Regions from separate parts of the Homo sapiens genome. Here all the other regions are linked to region 1. Evidence: fine-mapped expression QTL. A gene starts in region 1. Each other region holds a variant in brackets. All regions are shown on one strand. Distances are from middle to middle. Region 1 holds the start of NDUFA6-DT (NDUFA6 divergent transcript). Region 2 overlaps WBP2NL (WBP2 N-terminal like). Region 3 overlaps XRCC6 (X-ray repair cross complementing 6).

Evidence for each region. PIP is the estimated chance that this variant, and not a neighbour inherited with it, causes the effect.
Region 2: its variant is fine-mapped to the expression of NDUFA6-DT in whole blood (TOPMed, PIP 0.97).
Region 3: its variant is fine-mapped to the expression of NDUFA6-DT in whole blood (INTERVAL, PIP 0.95).

The regions. Positions count from the first base shown.
Region 1 is chr22:42,087,659-42,093,880 of GRCh38, forward strand. It overlaps NDUFA6-DT (NDUFA6 divergent transcript), which reads left to right and starts at 3,275. Exons shown (of 5, transcript NR_034118.2): 1 at 3,275-3,523; 2 at 3,639-3,942; 3 at 4,461-4,574. NDUFA6 (NADH:ubiquinone oxidoreductase subunit A6) reads right to left here and starts at 3,114. Exons shown (of 3, transcript NM_002490.6): 1 at 2,948-3,114. The coding sequence starts at 3,086.
Region 2 is chr22:42,020,841-42,027,062 of GRCh38, forward strand. WBP2NL (WBP2 N-terminal like) reads left to right here. Exons shown (of 6, transcript NM_152613.3): 5 at 1,409-1,516; 6 at 5,926-6,222. Among named protein-coding and RNA genes, the nearest start is that of WBP2NL, 25 kb to the left of the region's middle. The variant T/A (reference allele first, on the strand shown) is at 3,665.
Region 3 is chr22:41,629,050-41,634,049 of GRCh38, forward strand. All of the region lies in intron 3 of XRCC6 (X-ray repair cross complementing 6), which reads left to right. Among named protein-coding and RNA genes, the nearest start is that of XRCC6, 10 kb to the left of the region's middle. RefSeq lists an enhancer at 1,356-2,009. The variant T/C (reference allele first, on the strand shown) is at 2,710.

The sequences.
Region 1 (6,222 bases):
GGGTGTGGTGGTGGGTGCCTGTAATTCCAGCTACTCGGGAGGCTGAGGCAGGAGAATGGTGTGAACCCGGGAGGTGGACCTTGCAGTGAGCCGAGGTCGCACCACTGCACTCCAGCCTGGGTGACAGAGCGAGACTCCGTCTCAAAAAAAATAATAATTATTTTATTAGCTGGGCGCGGTGGCTCACGCCTGTAATCCCAGCACTTTGGGAGGCCAAGGCAGGTGGATCACCTGAGGTCAGGAGTTCAAGACCAGCCTGGCCAACATGGTGAAACCCCGTCTCCACTAAAAATACAAACATGAGCCGGGCATGGTGGTGGGTGCCTGTAATCCCAGCTACTCGGGAGACTGAGGCAGGAGAATCACTTGAACCCGGGAGGTGGAGGGTGCAGTGAGCTGAGATGGGCCACTGCATTCCAGCCTGGGTGACAGAGTGAGACTGTGTCTCAAAAAAAAAAAAAAAAAAAGGCTGGGCGCGGTGGCTCACGCCTGTAATCCCAGCACTTTGGGAGGCCGAGGCGGGTGGATCATGAGGTCAGGAGATCGAGACCATCCTGGCTAACAAGGTGAAACCCCGTCTCTACTAAAAATACAAAAAATTAGCCGGGCGCGGTGGCGGGCGCCTGTAGTCCCAGCTACTCAGGAGGCTGAGGCAGGAGAATGGCGTGAACCCGGGAAGCGGAGCTTGCAGTGAGCCGAGATTGCGCCACTGCAGTCCGCAGTCCGGCCTGGGCGACAGAGCGAGACTCCGTCTCAAAAAAAATAATTATTATTTTATTAGCTGGGCGCGGTGGCTCACGCCTGTAATCCCAGCACTTTGGGAGGCCAAGGCAGGTGGATCACCTGAGGTCAGGAGTTCAAGACAGCCTGGCCAACATGGTGAAACCCCGTTTCTACTAAAAATACAAAAGTTAGCCAGGTGTGGTGGCACGCAACTATAATCCCAGCTACTCGGGAGGCTGAGGCATGGGGAAATCACTTGAACCCGGGAGGTGGAGGTTGCAGTGAGCCAAGATCGCGCCATTGCCCTCCAGCCTGGGAGACAAGAGCGAGACTCTGTCTCAAAAAAAAAAAAAAAAAAAAAAGTGAGTTATCATTACTGTTTTTTTCATTAAATACTTAAAATTTTACTTTTGTTTTTTATTAATGCTCAGGCTGTTCTAAGTTCTCAACACTATTACTTATTCCCCTTCCTTGATTTGATTCCTCAGCTGGAGTCCTGATGATGGATACCATAAAACCCGTGTGGCACAGGTTTGAGTAACTGGCCAGCTACAGATCACTGATCTTCCCCATAGGGATGCATACTCCTTGACCCCTTCTTTTCTCTCCTCTTCCCTTGCTTTCTAGGCTCCTGTAGCCCTCTGCCTTCTTTTCCTCCTCTCAAGACCCTTCTGACTTTGGGACTTTCTTCCCAAAACAGAATTTGAGGGAAGGTCTTGGGAGGGGTCGGTTTAGAAAGAGCTGGATCCTCAGAGTCAGGATACCTGGGTTCTGTCTTCTACTTGGCCACTGATTTACCCTTCACAAGCCACCCTTTTTGAATGTGGTCCTCCTTCCCCCAGCACCTTCCTCCTGCAACCAGAGAGGGTTCTGGGTACTCCTAGAAGTATTCTGCCAGGCAAACATTATGTTTTCAAACTGCTGAATTTGAATGCACCACCCCGAAACACACACACACACACACACACACACACTGCTACAGTCACTCCCCACACACATCTTTTATCTGCCTGCCCCTGAAGGCATCTGAATTTGCAGTCCCTGAACCAGCAGATCACTCAAGTTTCTCCTTCTCTAGTATCGCGTGGGTTTAAGTTCTGGTCAGTAGCAATTTTTCCAAAAGTCAGCTTGAAGACAGGGACTCTGTGGAGCAGACACAGTTCTCATATGTCAAAGAACCGGGTTCTGCTTGGAAGCTGCTGCTAAGGAAAGCCCTATAAATAACAAAAATAACAACAAAAACAACGGCAGCAGCTAATATTTAATGAGTTAAATATGCATCAAGTCCTGTTCTAAGCACTCTAGATATTTTAACTTAATACAGTAACCTTCTGAAGAAGGAATTATTATTCCCATTTTAAAGATGAAGAAACTGAGGAATAGATGAAATAACTGGCCCAAGGTCACACAGCTAGTTGAGGGCAGCGCCTGAAGAAAAGTCCGTGCTCCTAACCACCACATTCTACCGCCTTTTCACACACACAAGCAGGGACTCGACAGCCCTGAGGAGTGGCACCGTGCTCCAGCTCACTCAAAAACACCTCTTTCTCGCACTTTGGGAGGCCGAGACGGGCGGATCACGAGGTCAGGAGATCGAGACCATTCTGGCTAACACGGTGAAATCCCGTCTCTACTAAAAATACAAAAAAAAATGGCCGGCGTGGTGGCGGGCGCCTGTAATCCCAGCTATTCGGGAGGCTGAGGCTGAGGCAGGAGAATGACGTGAATCCGGGAGGCGGAGCTTGCAGTGAGCCGAGATCGCACCACTGCACTCCAGCCTGAGCGACACAGCGAGACTCTGTCACAAACAAAAAAATCCAACGGGCATCTATAATTACACTCTGCAACTCTAGACTTTGGGTTCTGGGTACAACAGTGGCTCGGCCTGGGCCCTGGGCACATCACTTCACCTCTCGGTGCCTCCGCTGCCTCACCCACAAAGTGAGTGTGTCACTGACAGTCATCGTCCTCCCGCCAATTGCGAAGGACAAAAGAGACCAAAGCTCCGATAGCACGTACGAATGCTAGGCACGGCCGGTCTGACCACCGCGCCGCCGCCAGGTCCGGCCCATGGTAGGCTCGGGTGACCCTCTTCCCCTGAAGCACCCGCAGTCGCCTCTGCCCAAGTTGGTGACCTCAGCTGGGCCCATGAGAAACCCCGGCCGGGCCGGCTACGACCTTGAGCGGCGGCCTCCGGGTCCCCACGTAAGCCGCTACCTCTCACCAGTGTTCGGCACCTCCCGATACCAGGCGCGGTAGAGCTCGCGCACCCTCCGCTTGGCCTCGTTCATGTCCCGACTGAAAATGGGCTTCACGAAGGTGCTGGCGGTAGAAGTAGCTTGGCGGACGCCGCTCCCCGCCATCTTGCCAAAGCATCCACTCCACAACCCCACCCCTTTGCAAGCAGCGCGTGCGGACCGCGGGCGAATGTCTTTTCCCATTGGCTAAGGAGGAACGCCCCGCCTGTATGCTGGGTGGGCGGGAGGATGACTCTGAGGCTCTCGGATTGGCTGGGAAGCCTCTCTCTGGCTGAGCGAACGGTGGGTGCTGCGCATGCTCATCTACAGAAACGCCGCTTGGCCTTTGGACTACACCATCTGTCGCTCGCTCTAACGAGCCGGCGTTGCCGCCAGGGGACGCTCGGGCCGCAGGAGGTCGCTGGGTCGTGAGCTGGCGCCGGGGACGCCGAGCGACTGCGGGGTTTCCCTCAGCGTCCTGCTATCCGGCTGCCCGCCGCGCTCCTTGGTAGTGTCCGTGGGCGCGCAGGCCTTGAAGAACCTCCTCGTGGCGGGACCCCGAGGTAACTGCTGAGGCAGATAATGGCGCCTGGGCTGCGGTGGGGCTTGTCCTGCCGCCTGGCGGCTTTCTGCAGGGCCAGGATATACTTACTTTTCTGTAAACCAACTCTTCCTTAGCGCAGGAGAGGTGTCAAAGAGCTGGCGCGTCTCCAGAGCCCCGGGAGGAAGGCTGTAACGGCAGCCCCATCGTAGACAGGGACATTCGCATCCCGAGCCCTGGATCTCTGAAAACCAGCCCAGAATTTGGAAGCTGGAAGGAACTTTAGATCGTCCATTCTGAGTGTCTCTCTTCGCTGGCGTTTTCCCACTGAGGTTATGTAAACATGAAGAGGAGCCTACAAGTGTCAAGGAAAAAACGACAGCTAACCACAGGGCAGGCCATGGGCAAGATATCTCAGTGTTCTCCGCTCTCATAGGTCAGGTAGGTACCTCAGCATCCCCATTTTACAGGTGAGGAAACTGAGATGGCCCAGAGTCTAGGTCACCTGACAGATCGCCCCCACCTGCCTGACTGCTGCCTAAGAGGCTCCGTCTTTTTCTGAAGGTGTAGTTGACAGGAGCCTGTGAGTATTGGGGAAGGGCCAGGGGCCGGGGCTGAGCATCTACTCCAAACTTTCCCATTTCGAAGGGTTAAAAAACCAGATATACTTTTTTTCTTCCTTATTATCTTCTAAAATGTATATATATATTCAAGTGAGCTATACAAAAGAAAGCACGTAACATATATAAATTATAAAGCATAATAATAAAATGGAAGCTTTTGAACCTCAGTACTGACTTAAGAAGTTGTAACACAGTTAAGGTTTGTATAAAGTGTCCTTAGATGTCCTTAGTAGCCACTGTTCTCTAGTTCTCTAGGTACATTAACTTGGCTAGGCTTCACAACACACCAGTGAGATTGTGTTGATATACCCTTTTTTTTTTTTTTTTTTGAGACAGAGTGAGACTCACCTAGGCTGGACTGCAATGGTGCAATCTCGGCTCACTGCAACCTCCGCCTCTCATGTTCAAGCCATTCTCCTGCCTCAGCTTTCCGAATCGCTGGGATTACAGGTGCGCACCACCATGCATGGCTAATGCTTGTATTTTAGTAGAGACGGGGTTTTGCTATGTTGGCCAGGCTGGTCTCAAACTCCTGACTTCAGGTGATCCACCCACCTCAGCCTCCCAAAGTGCTGGGATTACAGGTGTGAGCCACTGCCCCCGGCTGATATACTCATTTTATAGATGAGAAAACTGAGGCACAAAGAGACTAAGTTACTTTACAGCATTGGGGTTGAAGCCCAGGCAGCTGGTGCCAGAGTCAGTTTTCTGACTCTCGCAGCACCTATACCATGATATCTACCTGTATGATTCTAACCTTGTGTATACCCCTGCCTCCTTCAGAAGTACCCACTATCATGATAAATTCATTGTGTTCAACATTCAAAAAAAAAATGGGGCGCAGTGGCTCACTCCTGTAATCCCAACACTTTGGGAGGCCAAGGCAGGTGTATCACCTGATGTCAGGAGTTCGAGACCAGCCTGGCCAACATGGTGAAACCCCCGTCTCTACTAAAAATACAAAAATTAGCCGGCATGGTGGTGGGCACCTGTAATCTCAGCTACTCGGGAGGCTGAGGCAGGAGGATCGCTTGAGCCCGCGAGGTGGAGGTTGCGGTGAGCCAAGATTGCGCCGCTGGACTCCAGTCTGGGCGACAGAGTGAGACCCTGTCTCAAAAGGAAAAGAAAAAAAAGACCTCTAAACAACCCACAAACTGGGAGAAAATTTTTGCAAATCACATGTTCCATAAGGGACTTGTATCTAGGATACATAAAATTCTTACAACTCAGTAATGAAAAGACAAATAGCCAAGTTTAGAAATGGGCAAGGGAGACAACACCAAATGCTGGTGAGGATGTGAAGCAACAGGAACTCTCCTTACTGGTAGGAACGCAAAATGGTACAGCAGCTTTGGAAGACAGTTTGGCTTTCTGACAAAACTAAACATACTCCCATCAGAAGATCCAGCCATTGCATTCCTTAGTGTTTACCCAAATGAGCTGAAAACTTATGTCCACACAGAAACCTGCACATGGATGTTTACAGCAGCTTTTGTTTTTGTTTTTGTTTTTGAGATGGAGTCTCGCTCTGTCACCCAGGGTGGAGTGCAGTGGCGCGATCTCGGCTCACTGGAAGCTCTGCCTCCTGGGTTCACGCCATTCTCCTGCCTCAGCCTCCAAGTAGCTGGGACTACAGGCGCCTGCCACGAAGCCCAGCTAATTTTTTGTATTTTAAGTAGAGACGGGGTTTCACCATGTTAGCCAGGATGGTCTCGATCTCCTGACCTCGTGATCTGCCCGCCTTGGCCTCCCAAAGTTCTGGGACTACAGGCGTGAGCCACCGCTCCCGGCCAGCAGCAGCTTTATTTGTAATTGCCAAAACTTGAAAGCAACCAAGATGTCCTTTAGCAGGTAAATGGATAAATAAACCTTGGTATATCCAGACAATGGACTATATTCAGCACTAGAAAGAAATGAGCTATTAAGCCATGAAAAGGCATGGAGAAACCTTAAATGCATATTAGTAAGTGAAAGAAGACAATCTGAAAGAGCTACATACTGTATGATTCCAACTATATTACATCCTGGAAAAGGCAAAACTATGGAGACAATAAAAAAGATGGCAGGGGCTGGGAGTGGGGAGAAATGCACAGAGGTG
Region 2 (6,222 bases), 67 kb before region 1:
TTATCTCATATATGTGTGTGTGTGTGTGTATATATATATATATATATATATATATATATATATATATATTTTTTTTTTTTTTTTTTTTTTTTTTTTTGAGACAGTGTCTTGCTTTGTCACCCAGGCTGGAGTGCAATCATGCAATCTTGGCTCACTGCAACCTCCACCTCCCGGGTTCAAGTGATTCTCCTCCCTCAGCCTCCCAAGTAGCTGGGATTACAAGTGTCCACCACCAAGCCCAGCTAATTTTTGTATTTTTAGTAGAGACGGGGTTTCACCATGTTGGTCAGGCTGGTCTCGAACTCCTGACCTCAGGAGATCCACCTGCCTCAGCCTCCCAAAGTGCTGGGATCACAGGCGTGAGCCAGCACGCCTGGCCGGTCCTTGCGATCTTTAACCCATGGCTTCCATGGCCTCTTTGTACAGCCAGCAGAGAAGGAAATAAAGATCTCCCCTGGGAAATTTTTATGGGCCAGGCCTGGAAACTGTCTACATTACATCTGGTCACATGCCATAGGCAAAACTCAGTGTGGTAGGCTGATAATGGATCCCCAGATATATCCCCATCCCAATCCTCAGAATCTGTGACTGTTACGTTATTTGTAAAAAGGGTGTTTGTAGACGTAATTAATTTAAGGATCTTGAGATGACAAGATTACCCTAGATTATTTAGGTGGCCTCTAAATGCCATCACAAGTGTTCTTATAAGAGAGATGCAGAGGGGAGACAAGACAAAAGTGTTTTCTTCGGTACCACACTTCCTCACATTGGTCTTTAATGGATATATCTTACCAACTTGGTAGAATCCTCACTTAGAAGTTTTTTCTGAATATCTGTTATGATTAGGTGCTATGCTAGGCCTGGAATAAGCACAGGCAAATGAGATACAATCTCTGCCCTTAAGACACGTGCCATTCAGGACAAGGGTCATATTTCTTTTCTTTCTTTCTTTTTTTTTTTTTTTTTTGAGACAAGGTCTTACTCTGTCACCCAGGCTGGAGGCTCCAGTGCAGTGGCACAGATAAGGCTCACTGCAGCCTCAAATTTCCAGGCTCAAGCAATCCTCCTGCCTCAGCTTCCTGAGTAGCTAGGACCACAGGCATGCACCACCATGCCTGGCTAATTTTTAAAAAATTTTTTGTAGAGATAGGGTCTTGCCATGTTGCCCAGGCTGGTCTTGAACTCCTGGGGTCAAGCAATCCTCCCATCTTGGCCTCCTAAAATGTTGGGATTACAGGTGTGAGCCACTTCACCCAGCCCATGTTTCTTTTTTATCTTGTGTCTCAAGAGCATTGTTGGAAACACATGTAAGGTGGTGATTAAATACTCTGTTAATTGTTTAGTTGATATCTGCTATATATCTGACTTAATTAAAAGAGTTCCTATTTTGCCAAATTTGTCTTTCCAGCTGCCCGAGGATTTCCACTTAGAACCTTAAATGACTGGTTCAGCTCTATGGGAATTTATGTAATTACTGGGGAAGGGAATATGTGCACTCCACAGATGCCTTGTTCAGGTAAGGTATGGCAGAGAGGTTCTTCCTGGAAGGTGGAAAATTATGCCAGAGGCTCAAAGATCTATCCCTTGCAGGCTTGCTCCCTGCAGGAGCAGCAGCAGAGCTTTAGGGGCTTGGAAAATGGTCACATCTGTGACTTTGTTTCCAGACTGAAACCCAGTGGCAAAGTCAGCAAGTGACTGGGCTTTGGTTTCAGGCTTACTTTTAATGATATATACAAACCTGGAACATACTTGGCAATCCTGTTAGTGGGAAGGGTCACTTCCTGTTTATAGCCTGAGCAGAAAATATATGCTCTTGCCCACTTCCTTGTTTCCATTTCACATAGCATAGTCATCATACCTGTGCCACACCCTTCAACCTTACTGAGGACTCGAGCCCTGGGTCCTTTAACAGTTTGTGTTGTTAAAGTCCACTGCTACTGAATGGGGTTTCTGGAAAGTAATTCTCAAACATGGTCCACTGCCTACTGGTGGGCCACCAAGGGTCTCCTAATGCTGCCAACACACACAAAAATATGGGACTTTTCTTGAGTTCTCCTTGGAACTTGATATGCATGTCCATGGGCCTTTAGTTTTGTATGTAACTTAAAGGCTACTTATTTGTAACCTTAATAGGTACCTTGGTTTTTAAAGGTTATTACAGTCTAATATTCAGAATCTAAAGTAATTGTTGCTAGGGTTTAACATTTTTTCAGTTGGTGAAATTCACATAACATATAATTAACATTTTAATGTGTACAATTCAGTGGTATTTAGTGTAAAATTTAGCAGTATTTGACGTATTCACAATATTATACATCCACCAGCTGTCTCTAGTTTCAAAAAGTGGTGTTTTTTTTTTTTGGAGACAGAGTCTCACTTTGTCACCCAGGCTGTAGTGCAGTGGCACTATCATGGCCCCCTGCAGCCTCGACCCCCTGGGCTCAAGCGATCCTCTTACCTCAGTACCCCCCAACCAGAGTAGGCTAGGACCACAGGCGCAATCCACCATGCCCGGCTAATTTTTATGTGTTTTTGTAGAGACAGAAATCTCCCTATGTTGTCCAGGCTGGTTCTGAACTCCTGGCCTCCAGCCATCTGCCCGCCTTGCCCTCCCGAGGTGCTGGGATTATAGGCATGAGCCATCTCTGGCAGCCTTTTTTGTTTTTGTTTTTGTTTTTTTGAGAGGGAGTCTTGCTCTGTCGCCCAGGCTGGAGTGCAGTGGCGCGATGCAAGCTCCACCTCCCGGGTTCACGCCATTCTCCTGCCTCAGCCTCCTGAGTAGCTGGGACTACCGGCGCCCGCCACCACGCCCGGCTAATTTTTTTTTTGTATTTTTAGTAGAGACGGGATTTCACTGTGTTAGCCAGGATGGTCTCGATCTCCTGACCTTGTGATCCGCCCGCCTCAGCCTCCCAAAGTGCTGGGATTACAGGCTTGAGCCACCACACCCAGCCCCTGCCAGCCTTTTTTTTTAAAAAAATTTTGTAGATACAGGGTCTCACTGTGTTGCTTAGGCTGGTCTCACACTCCTGGGCTCAAGCAAGTCTATTGCCTTGGCTTCCCAAAGTGCTGGGATTACAGGTGTAAGCCACAGCATCTGGTCTGGTTTCAAAACTTTTTATCACCTAATAGCCACTAAGAAGTTATTCCCCATTGTCCCCTCTCTGATCCCCTGGTATCCTCTAATCTGCTTTCTGTCTTTATTGATTCACCTATTGTGAATATATCACATAAAAGAAATCATACAATATGTGACCTTTTGTGTTTGGCTTATCTCACTCAAGATAACGTTTTTGAGGTTCCTCCAAGTTGTAGCATGTAGCAATACTTCATTTCTTTTCCTGGCTGAATAATACTCCATTGTACATATATACCACAATTTGTGTATTCATTCCTCCATTGATGGACATTTGTCTTGTTTCCACCTTTTGGCTATTACGAATACTAGCTGCTATGAGCATTTGTATATAATTTTCTACGTAGACATATGTTTTCATTTCTCCTGGATATGCATCTTGGAGTGGAATTTCTGGGTCATATGTAAATTCTCTAACTTTTTGAGGAACCACCAACTATTTTCCAGTGCTGCACTATTTTACATTCCTGTGTAAATGTAAGTGTTCCTATTTCTACACATCCTCAGCAACACTTATCTTCCTTTTTT[T/A]AAAAAAAAAAATCTATATTAAAGCCATTCTAGTGGGTATGAAGTGGTATCTCATTGTGGTTTTAATTTGCATTTCCTTAATGACTAATGATGTTGAACATCTTTTAATGTGCTTTTTATATACCTTAATTGGAGAACTGTCCAAGTCTTTTGCCTATTTTTTTTATTATTTAAATCGGATTGCTTGTCTTTTTGTTGTTGAGTTGTAAGCATTCTTTATATAGTCTGGATATGAAATCCTTGTCAGATATATTATTTGTAAATATTTTTAGGTTTTCTTTCACATTCTTGATAATGACTTTTTTTTTTTTTTTTTGAGACAAAGTCTCCCTCTGTCACCCAGGCTGGAGTGCAGTGGCGCCATCTTGGCTCACTGCAATCTCTGCCTCCCGGGTTTAAGTGATTCTTGTGCCTCAGCCTCCTGAATAGCTGGGACTGCGGGTGTGTGCCACCCTGCACAGCTAATCTTTGTATTTTTAGTAGAGATGTAGTTTCACCATGTTGTTCAGACTCATCTAGAACTCCTGAGCTCAAATGATCTGCCTGCCTCGGCCAGTGGGTTACAGGTGTGAACAACTGTGCCCAGGCAAAAATGGCTTTTAATGCACAAAGGTTTTTAATTTTTATCAGATTTCTCTTTTTTCCTCTTGTTGCTCATGCTTTTGATGTAAAATGTGAGAATTCGTTGCCAAATCCAATGTCATGAAGATTTATCCCTGTTTTCTTCTAAGCATTTTATAGTTTTAGCTCTTATATCAAGCTTGTCCAACCCATGGCCCAGGATGGCTTTGAATGCAGCCCAACACAAATTCATAAACTTTCTTCAAATGTTATGAGATTTTTAAAAATAGCTCATCAGCTATCGTTAGTGTTAGTATATTTTATATGTGGCCCAAGACAATTCTTCACCAATGTGGCCCAGGGAAGCCAAAAGATTGGCCACCTCTGTTTTATATTAAGGCCATTGATTCACTACAAGTTAATTTTTATCTGTAGAGTGAAGTGAGGGAAGAACCTCATTCTTTTACGTGCAGATATCCAGTTGTCCCAGAATCATTTTTTGAAGAGACTGTTTTTTTCCCATTGAATGGTCTTGGCATTCTGTCAAAAATCAACTGTTCATAGATGCTTGGGTTTATTTCTGGACTCTTAATTCATTCCATTGGTCTCTAAGTCTGTCCTTGTGCCAGTAAAACACTGTCTTGATTACAGTAGTTTTGTAATAAATTTTGGATTAAAGCAAAATAACTTTACAGCTGTCCATTCACTTTATCCAGTTAAATCACTTTGGGGAATGTAACCCAAGGTAATAAGTAAAACTCATGTTTATTGTAAGGTTAATTGGAAAGTCAGAAACAACAAAAAGAGTCATCTATCCATATGATGAAATATTATCCAGCTTTGAATTTATGAAGTAAATTAACAATATGAAGACATTTCTTATAATATTAAGTAAAAGAGCCAGATTTAAAAAATCATATGGCTGGCCGGGCGCAGTGGCTCACGCCTGTAATCCCAGCACTTTGGGAGGCCGAGGCGGGTGGATCATGAGGTCAGGAGATCGAGACCATCCTGGCTAACATGGTGAAACCCTGTCTCTACTAAAAATACAAAAAAATTAGCTGGGCATGGTGGCGGGTGCTTGTAGTCCCAGCTACTCGGGAGGCTGAGGTGGGAGAATGGCATGAACCCAGGAGGCAGAGCTTGCAGTGAGCCAAGATCGCGCCACTGCACTCCAGCCTGGGCAACAGAGCGAGACCCCCTCTCAAAATAATAATAATAATAATAATAATAATAATAATAATAATAATAATATGGCTGATATGATCATGATTATATAAAGAATATTCACAGAGATTCTACAAAGAAATACACCAAAATAGTAAGTGTTCAATGGTAGAATTATAGATGGCTTTTTTCCATTCCTCTTTTCTCTATTTTCCAAACGCATATTCCTCATTAAGCATGTATTACTTTTTTTCATAATCAAACTTTATTAAGTAAAACACATATCTGTGCAAGAGTATAAGTAACGCACCGATCTATTGATAGGGTTGTTTTCATGTTGATTTGAATCCCTGCACAACAGGAAGTGATATGCCTTCAATTGGTGATAGCTAGAGGAAATAGCTTTAGCATTATTCTGCCTGACTTCTCTTCTTGCGTCAGTTTGCTTCAGCATTATTTTTTAAGTTCTTCCTTCTCACATATTCCTTGACTTAAAGGTAACTGAATTTTTTTCCTTCCATTATAATTCCCAGTTATTGTCTATGGAGCCCCACCTGCAGGATATGGAGCCCCACCTCCCGGATACGGAGCCCCACCTGCAGGATATGGAGCCCAACCCGTAGGAAATGAAGGCCCGCCTGTGGGATACAGAGCCTCACCTGTGCGATATGGAGCCCCACCTCTTGGATACGGAGCCCCACCTGCAGGATATGGAGCCCCACCTCTAGGATATGGAGCCCCACCTCTTGGATATGGAACCCCACCTCTCGGATATGGAGCCCCACCTCTCGGATATGGAGCCCCACCTGCAGGAAATGAAGGCCCGCCTG
Region 3 (5,000 bases), 460 kb before region 1:
GTCATTAGAGAAAGGCAAATGAAAACCATAATGAGCTACCACTCACACCCACTATATAAACAAACTAAAATTTAAAAAACACCAGCAGAAAATAAGTGTTGGCAAGGCTGTGGAGAAATTGGCGTGATTGACTGTACCTGACCTGTTCTTGTTTCTTTAAATTGAGGTTGTGTTTCATGTAACATAAAATTAACTATTTGAAAGTATACAATTCAGTGACACTTAACACATTCACAATGTTATGCAGCCACCACCTCTATCTTATTCCAAAACATTTTGAATGGCTAAACAGTGGCATATAGATATACATTCCATGAAAAGGAATGAATAATTGATACATACTACAAAGTAGATGAATCTTGAAAGTATTATGCTAAGTGAAAGAAGCCAGATACAAAAAGTCAAATATTGTATGATTTCATTTACATGAAATATCCAGAATAGGTAAGTTCTTAACGCAGAGGGGTGGTTGGTTACCTGAGGCACAGGGAAGAGAGGAACAGGGAGCAACTGCTCAATGGGTATGGGGTTTGCTTTTGGGGTGATGAAAATTTTTTGGAACTAGAGTTGGTAGTTGCACAACATTGTGAATGTTTGTGTGTGTATTTATTTATTTATTTATTTTTATTATTATTTTTGAGACGGAGTCTCGCTCTGTCACCCGGGCTGTAGTGCAGTGGCGTGATCTTGGCTCACTGCAAGCTCCGCCTCCCGGGTTCATGCCATTCTCCTACCTTAGCCTCCAGAGTAGCTGGGACTACAGGCACCTGCCACCATGCCTGGCTAATTTTTTGTGTTTTTAGTAGAGACGGGGTTTCACCGTGTTAGCCAGGATGGTCTCAATCTCCTGAAGTGATCCGCCTGCCTCGGCCTCCCAAAGTGCTGGGATTACAGGTGTGAGCCACTGCGCCCAGCCTTGTGTGTGCATTTATGCTTTTTTTTTTTTTTTTTTTGAGTTGGAGTCTCGCTCTGTCACCAGGCTGGAGTGCAGTGGCACAATCTTGGCTCACTACAACCTCTGACTCCCTGGTTCAAGCGATTCTCCTGCCTCAGCCTCCCGAGTAGGTGAGATTACAGGCACGTGTCACCATGCCCAGCTAATTTTTGTATTTTTAGTAGAGATGGGGTTTCACCATATTGGCCAGGATGGTCTTGGACCCCTGACCTCGTGATCTGCTCGCCTCGGCCTTCCAAAGTGCTGGGATTGCAGGCGTGAGCCATGGCACCCGGCCTTGCTTTTTTTTTTTGAGATGGTGTCTCACTATTGCTCAGGCTGGTTTGGAACTCCTGGGCTCAAGCAATCCACCCACCTCAGCCTCCTGTGTGGCTGGGGTTAAGGCATGTGCCACTATGCCTGGCACATTGTGAATGTATTAAATACCTCTTAATTGTTCACTTAGAAAATCTAAATTTCAGCTTAATTAAAAAGATTAGTGTTTCTTTTTTTTTTTTTTTAATTTATTTTTTTTATTGATCATTCTTGGGTGTTTCTCACAGAGGGGGATTTGGCAGGGTCATAGGACAATAGTGGAGGGAAGGTCAGCAGATAAACAAGTGAACAAAGGTCTCTGGTTTTCCTAGGCAGAGGACCCTGAGGCCTTCCGCAGTGTTTGTGTCCCTGGGTACTTGAGATTAGGGAGTGGTGATGACTCTTAACGAGCATGCTGCCTTCAATCCATTTAACCCTGAGTGGACACAGCACATGTTTCAGAGAGCACAGGGTTGTGGGGTAAGGTCACAGATCAACAGGATCCCAAGGCAGAAGAATTTTTCTTAGTACAGAACAAAATGAAAAGTCTCCCATGTCTACTTTTTTCCACACAGACACGGCAACCATCCGATTTCTCAATCTTTTCCCCACCTTTCCCCGCTTTCTATTCCACAAAACCACCATTGTCATCATGGCCCGTTCTCAATGAGCTGTTGGGCACACCTCCCAGACGGGGTGGTGGCTGGGCAGAGGGGCTCCTCACTTCCCAGTAGGGGCGGCCGGGCAGAGGCGCCCCTCACCTCCCGGACAGGGCTGCTGGCCGGGTGGGGGGATGACCCCCCCACCTCCCTCCTGGACGGGGCGGCTGGCAGGGCGGGGGGCTGACCCCCCCACCTCCCTCCCGGACGGGGCGGCTGGCCAGGCAGAGGGGCTCCTCACTTCCCAGTAGGGGCGGCTGGGCAGAGGCGCCCCTCACCTCCCGGATGGGGCGGCTGGCCTGGCTGGGGCTGACCCCCCACCTCCCTCCCGGACGGGTCGGCTGCTGGGCGGAGAGGCTCCTCACTTCCCAGATGGGGTGGCTGCCGGGCGGAGGGGCTCCTCACTTCTCAGACGGGGCGGCTCCCGGACAGAGGGGCTCCTCACTTCTCCGACGGGGCGGTTGCCGGGTGGAGGGTCTCCTCCCTTCTCAGATGGGGCGGCTGGGCAGAGACGCTCCTCACCTCCCAGACGGGGTCACGGCTGGGCAGAGGCGCTCCTCACATCCCAGACGGGGCGGCGGGGCAAAGGCGCTCCCCACATCTCAGACGATGGGCGGCCGGGCAGAGACGCTCCTCACTTCCTAGATGGGATGGCGGCTGGGCAGAGACGCTCCTCACTTTCCAGACTGGGCAGCCAGGCAGAGGGGCTCCTCACATCCCAGACGATGGGCGGCCAGGCAGAGACACTCCTCACTTCCCAGACGGGGTGGCGGCCGGGCAGAGGCTGCACTCTGGGCACTT[T/C]GGGAGGCCAAGGCAGGCGGCTGGGAGGTGGAGGTTGTAGCAAGCCGAGATCACACCACTGTACTCCAGCCTGGGCACCATTGAGCACTGAGTGAACCAGACACCGTCTGCAATCCCGGCACCTCCGGAGGCCGAGGCTGGCGGATCACTCGCGGTTAGGAGCTGGAGACCAGCCTGGCCAACACAGCGAAACCCCGTCTCCACCAAAAAAATACGAAAACCAGTCAGGCGTGGCGGCACGCGCCTGCAATCGCAGGTGCTCGGCAGGCTGAGGCAGGAGAATCAGGCAGGGAGGTTGCAGTGAGCCGAGATGGCAGCAGTACAGTCCAGCTTCGGCTCGGCATCAGAGGGAGACCGTGGAAAGAGAGGGAGAGGGAGACCGTGGGGAGAGGGAGACCGTGGGGAGAGGGATAGGGAGAGGGAGAGGGAGAGGGATTACTGTTTCTTTTGTGTACTTCGTAGAGAAGAATTTTCACAGATTTATTATATATCTCATGTCTCATAATTTTAGAATTTGGAACTGAACAGAAACTTTTCATGTTCTAATTTGTGTACAAATAGTTCTTGGTAGGCAGGGTGTGGTGGCTCACGCCTGTAATCCCAGCACTTTGGGAGGCTGAGGTGAGTGAATCACTTGAGGTCAGGAGTTCGAGACCAGCCTGGCCAACATGGTGAAATTCTGTCTCTACTCAAAATACAAAAATTAGCCGGGCATGGTAGTGCAGGCCTGTAGTTGCAGCTATTCAGGAGGCTGAGGCAGGAGAATTGCTTGAACTGGGGAGGTGGACGTTGCAGTGAGCCAGGATCACGCCACTGCACTCCATCCTGGGTGACAGAGAGAGACTCCATCTCAAGAAAACAAGAAATAGTTCTTGTAGTTGGCACACCAGAATATCTTGCACCAAAAAAAAAGAATAAGCTGGGTGTGGTGGTGTGCACTTGTAGTCCCAGCTACTCAGGAGGCCGGGGTGAGAGGATTGCTTGAGCCCAGGAGTTTGAGGCTGCACTGAGCTATGATTGTGCCAGTGAACTCTAGCCTGGGCAACAGAGTAAGACCCTGTCTCTTGGAAAAAAAAAAAAAAAGAAAAGGCTGGGCGCGGTGGCTCATGCCTGTAATCCCAGCACTTTGGGAGGCCGAGGTGGGCGGATCACGAGGTCAAGAGATCAAAACCATCCTGGCCAAAATGGTGAAACCTCGTCTCTACTAAAAATACAAAAATTAGCTGGGTGTGGTGGCGTGCGCCTGTAGTCTCAGCTACTCCAGAGGCTGAGGCAGGAGAATCGCTTGCACCTGGGAGGCAGAGGTTGCAGTGAGCCGAGATGGCACTATTGCAGTCCAGCCTGGGCAATAGAGCCAGACTCTGTCTCAAAAAAAAAAAGTGTATGTAAAATAAAATAATAGAACTATGAATAAAAACAATCGTTAATTTAAAGTGGTTCTCAAACAGAATTACTTGCAGGACATTAAAACACAGACTACAGAACCTTGCCCCACAATCAAAATTTCTGATTCTCTATGTCTAGAATGGGGACCAAGAATTTGCATTTCTAGTAAATTGTCAGGTGATGCTGATGTTACTGATTTGGAGACCATTACTTTGAAGAGCAGTGCTTTAACCTTTTTTAGACCGTGGACCTATTTTTTTTTTTTTTTGAGACGGAGTCTCGCTTTGCTGCCCTGGCTCTTGGCTCACTGCAAGCTCTGCCTCCTGGGTTCACACCATTCTCCTGCCTCAGCCTCCTGAGTAGCTGGGACTACAGGCACCCACCACCACACCCGGCTAATTTTTTGTTCTTGTTTTTTAGTAGAGATGGGGTTTCACCATGTTAGCCAGGATGGTCTCCATCTCCTGACCTCGTGATCTGCCCACTTCGGCCTCCCAAAGTGCTGGGATTACAGGCATGAGCCACCGCACCTGGCCAACCGTGGACCTCTTTGAGGATATGATGACAGCTACATACCTTCCCCTCAAAAAAGATAGTACTCACAATTCTACCTGTAATTTCAGAGAGTTAATGGAACCCTTGATGCCTAAAGACCTCAGAAGAAAATGTAGTGTTAGGTAGGAAGGAAATGAGACATTCATAGATGAGCACAATTTGATAACCGATAATAAGTATTCAGTAGTTGATAAGCAATAGAAAACATTTTCTAAAATTCTGTTTTAGTTTTTGTTTTTAATTTTTAGAACCTAAAAGGAGCCCTTACCAGATTCTTTTAAAAGTTTGTAGACTCCTCAGAGTAGATTAAAATATTTATGGAAATGACTACTTGCCATGTGGATTGTTGT